Homo sapiens: one gene and its partner. The protein of the gene in region 2 purifies or fractionates together with the protein of the main gene of each other region. This does not show direct contact. Each region holds a gene or a part of one and is shown on either strand. Other genes may lie near its edges.

What was found. The genes of interacting proteins can lie anywhere in the genome.
Region 1: the proteins of EVI2A (region 2) and NCEH1 purify together in Homo sapiens (affinity purification with mass spectrometry; 2 studies listed by BioGRID and IntAct, with this or other methods). This does not show direct contact.

Annotation. Positions count from the first base shown.
Region 1 is NC_000003.12:172,645,068-172,652,092, reverse strand, and holds part of NCEH1 (neutral cholesterol ester hydrolase 1), read left to right. Parts: intron 1-3,978; coding exon 3,979-4,207; coding exon of another isoform or gene 4,208-4,231; intron 4,232-6,400; coding exon 6,401-6,470; intron 6,471-7,025.
Region 2 is NC_000017.11:31,318,623-31,326,593, forward strand, and holds the start of EVI2A (protein EVI2A isoform 2 precursor), read right to left. Parts: upstream 3,001-7,971; 5' UTR 2,873-3,000; intron 1,892-2,872; exon of another isoform or gene 1,810-1,891; coding exon of another isoform or gene 1,751-1,809; intron 402-1,750; coding exon of another isoform or gene 392-401; coding exon 1-391. Other genes in the region: NF1 (neurofibromin), read left to right, coding at 7,198-7,630. UniProt on the Homo sapiens protein: May complex with itself or/and other proteins within the membrane, to function as part of a cell-surface receptor.

The sequences.
Region 1 (7,025 bases), on a different chromosome or scaffold from region 2:
ATGAGGCACAGGGTCAGCTGCTTCAGATTCCACAGACCTATCTGGGAGTTTTTGTACCCCAGGGTTCTTTTTTCATTGGCTCCCAGATATTTATCTATACAGCCCTCATTTCCTCTGCAACACTTTCTCTTCCCCTCTTCTACCATCTAGCCTGGGAAATCACTTTCTATTCTAGGAGACTTCTTATTCGTCATGTAATCTTCTAAATCAATGCCTATTTTTTAAAAGATTCTCGGCCGGGCGCGGTGGCTCATGCCTGTAATCCCAGCATTTTGGGAGGCGGAGGTGGGTGGATCACTTGAGGCCAGGAGTTCGAAAACAGCCTTGCCAATGTGGCAAAACCCTGTCTCTACTAAAACTACAAAATGTAGCCAGGAGTGGTGGTGCATGCCTGTAATCTCAGCTACTTGGGAGGCTAAGGCACGAGAATAGCTTGAATCTGGGAGGCGGAGGTTTCAGTGAGCCGAGATCACACCACTGCATTCCAGCCTGGGTAACAGAGCGAGACTCTACCTCAAAAAAAAAAAAAGATTCTCCAAAAGATACAGGCTTTTAAAAATCCAAAGGAAGGAAGGAACTCCCGTTTCTTTGCTTTTTTTTCTCATAGCCCTTCAAAGAAGTAACAACTATAGAAAGGTGTGGCTACTGAATTTATTTTCTGGGCAGTATGGTAGGAGGAGAGTAATGTGAAGAGCTAAGGGAAAGATATTTGAGTAAAAAAAAAGTTAGGTAATATTCATGAGTTTGTCATTGATATCATATAGACATGCAAATGTTATCGCATACTGGATAGGGCTCAGAGCAGCTTCCAGGACCCACACTGATTTACACCAGCATTTCTAGGCAATTCTGTAAGTCCTGCAGCCCCTCAAGGTTTTAGAAATCCAGCTTCTGTACTGGCTCCTTAATGTCTAAGCTTCTGTTCTCTTCTCTCTGTAAGCAAGATAATAGTACCTACCTCACAGAATAGTAGCCAGAATTCAGCAACCTACCCTAGCACTCACTGTAGGCACTCAGGCAGTGATAGCTATTATTTATAATAGTACCAAGAAAAGTAATTAACAACAGGTTACTGTTCATATCAATTTTCAAGTTTTCAAACAGTCTTGATATTGGCTCTAGTATAACTCTAATTTATCAATACAATTGTGAACATTAGCACAGTTTTTCTTGTAGCAGTTCTCTAAATTCTTTTTCTACTCATCTACCTACCCTTTCATATTCCTGTCTTTTACCCTGCATAAACAAATTGTCCCTTTTTTTTTTTTTTTTTTTTTTTTCGAGGCAGAGTCTCGCTCTGTCATCCAGGCTGGATTGCAGTGGCACAGTCTCGGCTGACTGCAACATCTGCCTCCCGGGTTCAAGCGATTCGCTTACCTCAGCCTCCTGAGTAGCTGGGATTACAGGCATGTGCCACCATGCCTGGCTATTTTTTTTTTTTTTTGAGACGGAGTCTCACTCTGTCGCCCAGGCTGGAGTGCAGTGGCGTAGTCTCAGCTCACTGCAAGCTCTGCCTCCAGGGTTCATGCCATTCTCCTGCCTCAGCCTCCCAAGTAGCTGGGACTACAGGCGCCCGCCACCATGCCCGGCTGATTTTTTTTTTTTGTATTTTTAGTAGAGACAGGGTTTCACCATGTTAGCCAGGATGGTCTCGATCTCCTGACCTCATGATCCGCCCATCTTGGCCTCCCAAAGTGCTGGGATTACAGGCGTGAGCCACCGCACCCGGTCCCAGCTAATTTTTATATTTTTAGTAGAGATGGGGTCTCACCATGTTGGCCAGGCTGGTCTCTAGCTCCTGACCTCAGATGATCTGCCTGCCTTGGCCTCCCAAAGTGCTGAGATTATAGGCATGAGCCACTGCACTCAGCCAAATTGTCCCTTTTCTAATCAGCACTTCTACCCCCACACCACTGTGTTGCTATTGTAAACAATGCAGATGGTTGTTCAAGTATTCTGTGAATGCAAGCGAAACATAAGCTAACATGGAGAGATGTTTCTGGAAAGGTGTGAACAAATTGAGTCAAACCCGCATGTACTCAGAGCATGCATTACATAAAGGAAACTCGAGGTGGGCTCTCTTATAAAATGTACAGTCTTCTCATATCTGTCATATAAAGACAATTCACTTGTTTTACAGCTTCATATAGTTAAAGAAACTCATGTAATTTGTCTCAAGTGTTTAAGAAAGTCTTCATTTAATTAAAAAGAAAAGTACAGTTCATAATATAACAGAGCCAGGTCTGCCATTTCTTTGTTCATATTTCATCGTTTCGTGCCAGTCAAACTACCTGTCCTGTGACAAGTGGAATGGAGCTTGCATGTTCCCTATTAATTGATAATGGTGTTAACAAGGGTTTATTATATCTACTCTAGAAACTTTGGAAATACAGTGATTCTTAGCTATTCCCTGGCAGATCTCAATATTCTCTAAATTAGACTAACATTTTACCACAAAACTCGAATGGTAATTGCCTTCTTCCAATTTACCAAAGAACTTAAGTTGATAGTTAGAATCCTCTGTGCAGTACATGTGTGAACACATATGTGCATGTACACATGCATAAATTAGTATCAAAGACATGAACAGTTTCAACTTGTTCAGTAAATTGGGCAGTTGATGTCAGGGCACATGTAGAAGTTGAATTTTCTTAATATTCATTTGCTCTGCTGCTGCTTATACTTGCCAGCGAATAATATTAAAGGAATTCCTAAAATAGCTGTTCATTGTTTGATTAACTGCCTCTTGTTCTTGTTTTTCATTAACATTTGCTAATGCTGTTATAATATAGTGCTTTCTAACTCTTTTCATGACAGGACAGGACATATATATATGTGTGTGTGTATATATATATATGTATGTATATATAAAATATACACACACAGTTATAATGTTTATATGGGACACTGGGGTAAAGGGCTCAGGAATTTGCCCAGAGGCTGAGGCGATGAGCACACACGGACCCTCTTCAAGGTGTACCGTCGTACGCTGTGCACAGCCTGAGAAGCTGTAAGGTGCCACATCGCAGACATCATATAGTCCTGATTTCTGCTAGCAACATTGTTTCCGTGATCTTATGATCATTAATCACCAGTGTTCTGTTTCATCATCTACAAAAGAGCACTGTTACTCTCCAGCTGTTCCCCTTCCTGATGAACTTGCGAAAGTGGAGAGAAGGATATAAACTCAGAAGTGTCTTTGCTTGGTGGGTAAATTAGGTCTCCTTGCTATGTTCCTTCTGCAACCAAATAACTTTCTGCGAACACTTAATGCAGAGCTTGATACCCTGAGGGTTCAGAAGGGAAGAGACCATCAGGCAGTATGGTCTTTGCCTCATTTCTAAAAAGCTTCTGGTTATATCTGAGCTGAGCTGCTTCTAAATGCCAGGGCCTCCCTTGACAATGTTTCTTTTTTCTCACACGCTCCTTTCAAAAGGACAAGACACATTTAAAGATACAATTAAATATATTGAAGTTACAAAGCAATTTAAAGAAATTAAGCAATAAGACACACCCAAATATATGTTACAAAGGAATTTAAAGAAATTAAAGTAAATAGAACATTTTCCTCTTTTATTTGCATTGAAATAAAGTATTATTTCTTTACTCCTAGTATGTTATTGGAACTGTGATATACTTATTTAGAAAAAAAAGGTACTGAATCCTGGAATTCAAACCTAATCTTAGGTTTGAGTCCCAGAACTACCACTTATCCAATGAAATGAACAAGCATAGTTATTGTTTAAGCCTTCTCAATAAAATGGGACTGATGATACCTGAGGAGATCTCATGTATGAAAATATTTTGTCCAAAAGCAAAAGGTAAATACAATTGGTTTTTGTATTAAAAGGGCTCAATGAGCCCTCCAGTCCAGTGGCAGCTGCTTGTAGGAATTCAGACACTCAGTTGGTGAGGGCAGCTCTGGTGATGCCAAGTTGACGTGCGCCCTCCCTCTTTATTTCCTCCCTCGCCCTGCAGAGTAACCTGATCCACTACCTGGGACTGAGCCATCACCTGCTGGCACTGAATTTTATCATTGTTTCTTTTGGCAAAAAAAGCGCGTGGTCTTCTGCCCAAGTGAAGGTGACCGACACAGACTTTGATGGTGTGGAAGTCAGAGTGTTTGAAGGCCCTCCGAAGCCCGAAGAGCCACTGAAACGCAGCGTCGTTTATATCCACGGAGGAGGCTGGGCCTTGGCAAGTGCAAGTGCGTCCTGGTCACCTTCAGATGGTTTGTTGTTGTGGTTGGCCTTGGGGGAGATGCGTAACTGAGTTTGGCTTTCTTAGTGGGAAAGAAGGGGACCATTTATCTAGGTTCCCCTGGATGGTCCCAGTTACCCCTGTTGTCCCAGCAAAATTATGACTAGTGCCCCCTTTTCACTCTCAAAAGGGTCCTGGTTTGGGTGATAAATTAAATGGTTATCCTTTGTAAAGGTTTTTTGCTTGTTAGTTTGTTTGTCAATTCAGGTAGACTGTTGTAAAAATATTTCCTATGATCTAAATCACAGACTAACTTATTGTGCAGTGCTGATACAGCTTTCTGCACCAAAACAAGGTGAAGTTTCACCAGGCACGCATATGGGGAATTATCTGTGCTTCTTTTGCCAACTTGTGTTTTGAAGATATATTTCTATGAAATAGACCAGGTATTCCTTAATACACATGTTAACATTTTATCTGCTTATGAAAGCAAAGGTAAAAATATATGCAACCATTCAAAGGAAACAATCTTGCAAAGTTCAAGAATATTTTCTTTAGATTTGGATGATTTTTATGAGTAGAACACATTCAAAATGGCAGGCAGCCAAACAGAGCCGCCCAGAAGAGAACCTCCCAAGGCGGAATTCGGGGTCTTGTCTCTGCTAATAAATGATCATGGAGCTACTTCCTCATCTTCAGTCCAGAGCTTTTGGCATCCCCTTAGTTTAAAAGCAATGGCAACTTGTTTTTTTTATTTTATCATTATGTGATTTTTTTTTAAAAGCAACAAAGGTCAAAAGGTTTGACTTTTTCTAGTAATCTTATTTAATTCCATATCCGTTGTTTATTCTTTTATTCAGTGATTTTTTTTCACATTTTCAATAGCTGTTCATGAGTATGTAGGTTTGCCCGAGACCAAGGGGTTTGCTGGGCTGCAGGTCTTTCAGTGCAAAAGCTCAAACAGTTGTGGGCAAGTCTGGACCATTGGTCAGTCTAAGGTGTGCTCGGGTGTAGGGATACAAAAATGAATAAGAAGGAGTTTCTGCCTTAAAAGAGATTGAATCTGTAGCATTGGACGCTTGCCAGGAAAAACATTGTACTGGAGGACAGCAAGTATGGGTGCCAGGAATGGGATGGATTACAAGAGTCAGCCTGGCCTTTTCTGCATAATTTTGACTGATCACTTCTGCCTGAGGAAGAACTTGAGCAGGTGGAGGTAACAGGTGTCTATGTAATTCTTAAGCTTCCGATTCTAAGACTGCCTTGGAAACCCTATAAATAAGGAAATGTTTGGCTCTCAGTTGGCACAATATAGATCTTAATTTACTGAGAGTAACTAAGAATTAAATTCTTACATATTAAATTGGTTCTGTTACTGCAGACCTTTGGAATCCTCTAAGAAATGCTAAGACTTCCTAAAATTCTAGTTTTTTACGTGTTCATTTAAAGAAAATACCATATTCTTCAAATTGATCACTTTACTGAACTGCAGCAAATGAAGTGTTAAAAGAGCAAAATTGTTAAAATTATTATTTTTAGACATAAGATCTCACTCTGTCACCCAGGCCAGAGTACAGTGGCTCTATCACAGCTCATTGTAACCTCAAACTCTTGGGCTCAAGTAATCCCCCTTCCTCAGCCTCCCAAGCAACTGGGACTGCAGGCGTGCACCACTATGCCTGGCTAATTAAAAAAAATTTTTTTATAGAGGCAGCATCTGGCTATGTTGCTCAGGCTGGTCTCAAACTTCTGACCTCAAATGATCTCCTTCCTTAGCCTCCTGAAGTGCTGAGATTACAGGCATGAGCCACCACTCCCAGCCTAAAATTGCATGATTCTAAGGAAGAGACTGCTTATTTGCTGTGATTTTTTTTCCAGAAAGATGTATACATTTGAAGAGCTATAAAATCAGGATTAATTTGGTGCATTTCATATAGTCCGTTATGAAATAAATATTTAGATAGTAATATATTCAAAACTAAACTATGCATTTCCTGTTATATAGTAGTTGCATGTTATTAGAAATCAGATTTAATTTTTCATGTGTACATGTAACTCTATTATTTGTTCACATTTGCTTTTTATTATTTGTTTTTAGTATTAGCTCCAAGCCTAAAAACAATTCACACTTAGCAGAATTTATGAGTGGACAGTATTAAATGACCTGTTTTGTAATGATTGTTCCCTTTGTGTCTTTTAGAAATCAGGTATTATGATGAGCTGTGTACAGCAATGGCTGAGGAATTGAATGCTGTCATTGTTTCCATTGAGTAAGTAATTAATGCTAGTCATAGAAAATTTTTCTTATAAAGGAATTCTAGATAACAGTCTGGTTACTTTGTTTTACAAGTGATAAAGTAAAAAATAAAGGTCTCAAGTTGGCAAAGAGATATGCCCAAAGTCACACTCAGCATAATCAGAAAAATGATTTCTGATGTAACAAAATTTATTGAACTAGCTTTATAACACTTCAAATTACCTTTTCACCGTTAGTTTTGAAAACTGAAAAAAGGATTAACTAAAAACCTAGAGAAGTATGCAATCAGTTACCTGCAACATATAACTTTTTAAATCTAAAAAGTAGTAAGGATTTTAAGAGAATCTCTTCTACAGCTGAGAGTTGAAAAAGTTGCTCTCTTAGAGTCAGGTTCTATGACTTGTGCCTTGGGAACAGAAATACGTGTTCAACAAATTTTAATGGTGTGGTTAGTAGTAATAGTAGTAATATTAATATTTTGGGTTGTCTCTGTCAGTTCTGTATAAGCCACTTTTCTGGGCAACTAAGAAGAATGTGAATAATAATTATAATAATTTTGATGATAATA
Region 2 (7,971 bases):
TGTTGTTTTCCGCACAGACATCCTTTTTGAAAATTTCACCATGACTTTTGCTTGTGTTTTCAATGCTCTGTACTGTTGAAGGACTGTTGCTGACGACAGAAGGTATATAAAGCTCCTGTTCAGATTTAGAAGTTAAAGCTACGATGTGAGATGTTTCAGGCATGTTTGTAGAATTACCTTTATAATCTACTTCAGGAGTTATAGGGTTTGTGTTAATGTTTTCATTTTGGTTTCTGCCTGTCTTGTTTTGAATAACTGAATCCCAGGAAGAAGTACTGTTAGCCCACAGACGGGTATAGTTTGCTTTTGTTCCAGGAGACAAAGAAAAAACTGTTGTCATCAGAAAGGCAAGATGTAGGTAATGTCCTGTGTGTTCCATGTCCGTGGGCATGCTTGGCAATCTGTTGGGATAGCAATATAATTTGTTAGTTTGTGAAAGAATAATGGATCCTAGTTTTGGTAATTGTAGTTAAAAGATAGTGTTGAGATGTTACAAGTAAACTACAAGCTTATGCCTAATATTCGCTACCCTGAATTCCTTCTCAACTAAATTTCTTTTCTATTCAGCTATGTATGAAGAAGCATTTTAATTTCTATTAACACTTTTAGATGCTAGAAGTTAGCATTACAAATAAATATTAATCATTTTAAGTGGACTATCATGGCTTTATATAGTTTTCTTCCTTTGAAGCGTGCTAGACTTCTGCTTTGAGTCAGTTAGTTCTGCTTTTACTTTTCTGATTCCTTCTTTAAAAAAAAAAAAAAATTAAGGATCATTCTTACAGAAACTACCCACCCTCTAACCTGTCACCAATCTTTACAGAAGAAATGTGGCCTTGAGCTTCTTGCTTCATGTATGAAATAAATGCAAATTTTTTTGGTGGAAAGAGGGGAAGTTTGGTAGCAACCAAAAGAAACTGAACTTCAAATAGAAATTCAAGGTGTTCTTTTTTTTTCTTGGGTGTTCATCTTGAAGCTTAGAATAAAGCTGGTACTTAGAAATACATTTGTAAGTGTATTTGTGAACGCAATTTTACTGTGGTGGTTGTCTCTTTTCATTTATATTTCCCTGGACTGACTGTGTCTTTCTGAAGGCAAAGGCATACCAGTTTTCTCAACCTAAAAATCTGAAGAAAAAAAAAAAAAAACAGCAAATTTCCTCTGAGTAGACTTAAAAGTTCAACAAAAGTTGCTGGGTTTTCTTTTAAAGCATCATTTATACCTAGCATTTTTTCTGATTTTGACATAATTGTAAAAAAAAATGTGTAATAAAATAGAAATAGAGCATCAGGATCTTGATGATTTGGGATGAAGTGGCAGGTTATAAGCATCTCAACAGATAATTGAAAATGTTGAATTTCCGCTTTGGCCCTGAGCTTGCTGGAAACTAGTACAAAAAGGAGACAAGTTATATTATACATTTTTTAAATCTACCAAATGATTGATTTAAATAGAAATGGCATATCTTAGAATTTAACAGTTCCATGTACTGCTAACCCAGCAGGAAAGATTTATAATCATTATTAAGGTATCTTATAATAATATACCAGTTTGTCTTGAGCTACTTTTGAAAGGAGTATTTTATTGTTAGCATTTATTTGAATGAACTAAAAGCAAAACTATATTGTTCTCCTGAGATTTACTAAATGAAATTGCCTGGTTAAGAACCCTACGTATGCTATAGAAATTCTTCTCAAATGTACTTAGGAGTCCTTTTATTTAAAAAAAAAAAAAAAAGGCAGATTCTTACCTAGCTAGTATAGGTAGGGCCTGAAAGTCTTTGTTTCCAAACCAACTCCTAAGCAACATGGATGCCACTGCTAGTCAGGCTTTTGAACATCAAGGTTTTATAAGAAATGGTTGTTATATGTCATTGGCTGACATTTGTATACTATTAAAATACAGAAATTGAAAATAAGAAATGTGATACGTTGAGTTATGCAAACAAAAGTAGCATGTAATAAACAATGCTAACTGGAGACTATATTTCATATTAATAGTAGGGAGGAAAAACTATTAAATATTCCAGGATTAAGATTACTTTTTAGATTATGACCTTTAGTAGACAATTAAAGGCCCAAGTCACTGGCTTTTGTATAATAGTGTTCAGCTTTAATTTTTAAGTTTAGTGACATAAATCTTTGGATATTTCATGATTCTTCCACAAAAAGAAATACTTGAAATTGGATTAGCAAGTAATTTCCATCTTTTTATACTAGACTGGACTTCTGTATTAGATGCTAGAATGATTTAAAGTAGATTATTCTTTTCACATTAGTTCATTAACAGTGTAGTATACATCATAGTATTGGTACACATTTTAACAGTGCTTACCACGGAACAGATAATAGGCCTGCTGTTGATTGTCTTCAGCCAGATGTACTGCAGTGCCCAAATAAACAAACTGTATGACAAAATGAGACTTTCTCTTGCCCTTACAAATGCCTGAGAATTGAGGACTGTTTTTACTCCAGTTTATGCCTTGGAGGCCAGGTTGTGTTATCAGAAGTTTTCTTATATCTGATCATTTTCAGTAGAATTTATTTTCAGTAGAATTTGTAATGTCCAAGCATTAGTAATGAGAAATTTATTTTTTAACTTTTGAAAAATAACAAAACATTTCCAGTTTACTTGAGGAAACCAAACTTAGATCCTTCGTAATCCTAATTTAAAACTCCATGGCGATGGCAAATTTTTTCATTTCTAACTTAAAATTTATGTAACAGGACAGAAAAAAAAAGTATACATTTTCAGTCACAATTCTAGTTTGTTAGTGAGATTCTTACACACTTTGATAGCATTTCCTCGAACACTAATCTGTCAGACGTTAGAAGTGAAAAGGCATAAGAAAAGCCGTATATATATGACCTACCTTACAAAATGCTTGGTCAAAATCTGATTATAACGTGATTTTGATAAACCACTTCTTTTCTTGTCTTCTTTTTAAAGCAGAATAGACTTGGAGAATATGAGCCTTAAAGTAAATCTGCAGTAAAAAAGGATATGTGCAGCTAGTTTTCCACTTTTAAAACCAAACCACAGATGACACATTTCCTTTCCACTGCAACTAAAGCACATGTCACAGGAGGGAAAAAAAAAAAAACAACGAAAAAGCTCCAACTTCTCTAGTTGGCCACTGGCATGACAGGAGGCTTTGTAGAACCAATCCCCGCCTCCAGAGCAGGGAGGGTTTTCCACTTAATGCCTTTTGACAGTATGCTCATTCTATAGGCCTGCTACATGCTTTAGTGTCATTCAAAAGAGGTTTTGAAATGGTATCTTCCATTTCAAATCTTCTCTAAAAGACTTATTTGAAATCTACAGACTGATTTGAAAATGTGAGTTTGGAGTCCATGGGATACTGATCAGATAATGTAACAATTGTGGAACTGCAGCAATTATTTGAGAAAATATCTAGTAAACTTAGATTATATGGGACAGAAAATGCTTTCGTGTGGTGTAGTGTGTGTATACACACACACACACACACACACACACACACACACAACTGTCAAACATCCTGTCATCACCTCAAGTTTAACATGACTGAAACAGACTTTAAGAACTAGGTATGGGCTGAACACGGTGGCTCACACCTGTAATCCCAGCACGTTGGGAGGGTTGACGCAGGCAGATCACTTGAGGCCAGGAGTTCAAGACCAGCCTGGCCAACATAGAGAAAACCTGTCTCTACTAAAAATATAAAAATTAACCAGGCAGGGTAGCATGCACCTGTAGTCCCACCTACTTGGGAGGCTGAGACAGGAGAATAGCTTGAACCCGGGACGTGGAGGCTGCAGAGATCATGAGATCTTGGCTGCATGAGCTAAGATCATGCCACTGCACTCCAGCCAGGAAGACAGAGTAAGACTCTGTCTCAAAAAAAAAAAAAAAAAAAAAAAAAAAAAAAAAAAGAACTGGATATGGCAGCACATATCTGTAATCCCAGCTACTAGGTAGGTTGAGGTAGGAGGATCACTGGTGGAGCCCAGGAGTTCAAATCCAGCCTGGGTAACATAGCAAGACTCCATCTCTTAAAAATTAATTAAATTAATGAAATAAAAAGAACTTTATTTTTTCTTTAAAGGAGGCTGCCTGTGACAGTCTTCTTGTTTCTGTTCATGATAGCAACATTCTAATATCAGAGGCTTAGTATACAACACATCATTTTAATTTAAGTCCTCTCAGTCCTGATCAGACTTTGAATCATGTTGGTCCTTCCTTCATATTGTTGGATCAGTTTCTTTTTCCCTGTTTTTACTGTCAACAGTACTATTTTAGATCCTTATCAGGTCATACCTAGACTCTACAGTGCCTTTTCGGTAGCCCTGAATCCTTCTTATATCTTGTATACATCACTGTCTTTGGTCATACCACCCTTTCTTTAAGGGAAAATAAAACCGGTTGAACAGTTCCCTAATACATACAACAATGATTCAGAAATGTTTGTGTACATAAACATCAGATGAGAAGATTGTTTAAAAATTATAAAAGCAGGACATGGTGGCTCACACCTGTAATCTCAGCACTTTGGGAGGCTGAGGCGGGAGGATTACTTGAGCCACAGAAATTCGAGACCAGCCTGGGCAGCATGGCAAAATCCTGTCTCTACAAAAAATACAAAAAAACAAAAACAAAAAACTAGCCGGGCATGGTGGCGCTTATCTGTAGTCCCAGCTACTCAGGAGGCTGAGGTGGGAGGATCACCTGAGCCTGGGGAGGTCAAGGCTACAGTGAGCTGTGACCGTGCCACTGCAGTCCAGCCTGAGTTAAGGGAAAAAAAAAAAAGATAAAAATTTCCAGGCCCCACTACATAGATCCATATTTAGTAGGTCCAGGTTGGGACCAGGAAACTGCATTTTTATCAAGCACCACAGTTGATTCTGACGCCAGTAGTCCACAGAACATATGCTGAGAAATGGTGAGCCCCTAGTAGAAAACCTAAGCCCTTTGGTTGGGCAGTTATGGTCTCTCCACAATTTGACTATTCTGTATTTTCCCAGCTTTATCTCTCAAAACTTCTCTACCTGAATCCTCCATTCTGGCTAGACTAGCTGTCTCTTCAACACATCTAGTTACCTGTTTCTTTTCCTTTTTGCCTTTCTCCATAAGGCCTGCCCAGTCCTCTTGCTGAGTCTGCATTCCTCCTTACCTGATTCAGCCACTGTATCTTCTATGTAGCTTTCACTGACTGCCCAGTTTGTGTTAATCTCTCTCTCTCTCTCCTTTGTCTTAATAACAGTATTTTCTCTGCATTTCCTTTGATAAGTGATTACTTTCTACCTCATATCTTCTATCTTGAAATATTTGTGTTGTTTTAAAATCATTTGACTTGTCATATTTTTATCTTATTTTCTCCCAACAAGATTAAAAATTCTGAGGTGAAGTTTTTTATTGATACATGATAATTTGTACATATTAATGGAGTATGTGTGATTTTTTTGGTTTTTTTTGTTTTTGTTTTTGTTGGAATCTCGCTCTATCGCCCAGGCTGGAGTGCAGTGGCACAATCTCAGCTCACTGCAAACTCCCCTCCCAGGTTCAAGCAATTCTCCTGCCTCAGCCTCCCAAGTAGCTGGGGCTACAGGCACGTGCCACCACGCCCAGCTAATTTTTGTATTTTTAGTAGAGACAGGGTTTCACCCTGTTGGCCAGGCTAGTCTTGACCTCCTGACCTCAGGTGATCTGCCCGTCTTGGCCTCCCAAAGTGCTGGGATTGCAGGCGTGAGCCACCATGCCCTGCCTGTATGTGTGATATTTTGATACATGCATATAATGTGTAATGATTAAATCAGGGTGATTAGGATATCCATTGCCTCAAAGAAAAGAAATTGTTTCGTCTAGCTGTTTTGAAATATACAATGTTATTATTAACTAGTCACCTTACTATGAATAGTAGAACTTGTTCCTTCTATCTAATTCTAACAATACATATATTATTTATTTTATTATTATTTTTTTAAGACAGTCTCACTGTTGCCCAGGCTGAAGTGCAGTGGTACAATCTCAGCTCGCTGCAGCCTCTGCCTCCCAGGTCCAAGTGATTCTCGTGCCTCAGCCTCCCAAGTAGCTGGGATTACAGACATGTACCACCATGCCTGGCTGATTTTTGTATTTTTAGTAGAGACAGCGTTTTGCCATGTTGGCCAGGCTGGTCTCGAACTCCTGGCCTTATGTAACCCACCTGCCTCAGCCTCCCAGAGTGCTGGGAATACAGGCGTGAGCCACTGTGCCCAGCCCTGATTATATTTTTATATCCATTAACCAACCTCTGAGGTAAAGATTTATTTTAACTTACTTAGTAGTATTATCACCAGAATCATCACATATGGAAAACTTTGGGCCTAAGTTAACATAGATTGTTTTGATTTGAAACTTTGGTACCATTACTTCAGGGCTTTTTCATGGTCCTCACTGTGGCTGCTCCCATTTATTAGTATTCTTTTGGTTTTAAGCAACATATGACCTAATATGGCTTAATCAAAAAATGGTATTTATTGGCTTATGTAACTGAGCAGTCCTGGGATAAATTTGACCCCAGGAGAGGCTTTATCTCATACACAAATGATATGGCCAGGGTTCCAGTTTGTCTATTTCTCAGCTCCTTCTCTTCAGTCTTTTGGGAGGCTCTTCTTTTATATCCCAAAATATGAGCTAGCAACTCCTAGGGCTACGTATTCCCTTGTTTATAAACACCAGGAAAGAAATATCTCAAATCCCAACAATTTAAGCTAAACTACCTGAACTGGGCCTCTTTGGCCCTGGTTGTCCTGGTTTGAATAATGTGTTCATTGCTGAATCAGTCTGTGATCAAGGTGGGATAAATGGATTGGCTAAAACCATCTCACTCCAGAGCTCCAGATGGGTCATTCCTACCAGACTATTCGCCTAAGGAGTTTGGTGGGCCCTGCAGGCAACCAACTAATTCCCACTGTTTTCTTCCTTTCTTGACTCATGGGCAAATTTTTTATTGTTGTCGTGGCTCAAAATTTTTGAATTGGAGATTTGTCTCTTCTCTTAGCCTTATTTCTCAGTGTCCAAAAAACAACTGATTTAAAAAATGAATCCAGACTTTGAAGAATTGTTTTATATTATTCTCTCTAGAAAATGAATCATAAAATAAAATTGATTAGTGGCATCTGTATATTTATTTTAAACACTGCTAATAATCTTTGTCTTTTTTGTCATTTTCCTTAGGTTCAAAACTGGTCAAATCAATGGTGATTTGCTGATATACCATGTCTTACTGACTTTAAAGCCATATTATGCAAAGCCATATGAAATTGTAGTGGACCTTACCCATACCGGGCCTAGCAATCGCTTTAAAACAGACTTTCTCTCTAAGTGGTTTGTTGTTTTTCCTGGCTTTGCTTACGACAACGTCTCCGCAGTCTATATCTATAACTGTAACTCCTGGGTCAGGGAGTACACCAAGTATCATGAGCGGCTGCTGACTGGCCTCAAAGGTAGCAAAAGGCTTGTTTTCATAGACTGTCCTGGGAAACTGGCTGAGCACATAGAGCATGAACAACAGAAACTACCTGCTGCCACCTTGGCTTTAGAAGAGGACCTGAAGGTATTCCACAATGCTCTCAAGCTAGCTCACAAAGACACCAAAGTTTCTATTAAAGTAAGTTCCAGTCTGTGTTTTGTAAACGATTCATTGCTTTTCTTGACTAACTAGACTATATCCTGGCCTCCCTAGGTGTCCTACCCCTATAGTGGTGTATAAAATGTCACGTAAGGCTGTCGCGGTGGCTCACGCCTGTAATCCAAGCACTTTGGGATGTCAAGGTGGGCAGATCACGTGAGGTCAGGAGTTCAAGACCAGCCTGGCCAACACGGTGAAACCCCGTCTCTACTAAAAATACAAACATTAGCCGGGTATGGTGGTGGGCACCTGTAATCTCAGCTACTTGGAGGCTGAGGCAGGAGAATCGCTTGAACCCGGGAGGTGGAGGTTGCAGTGAG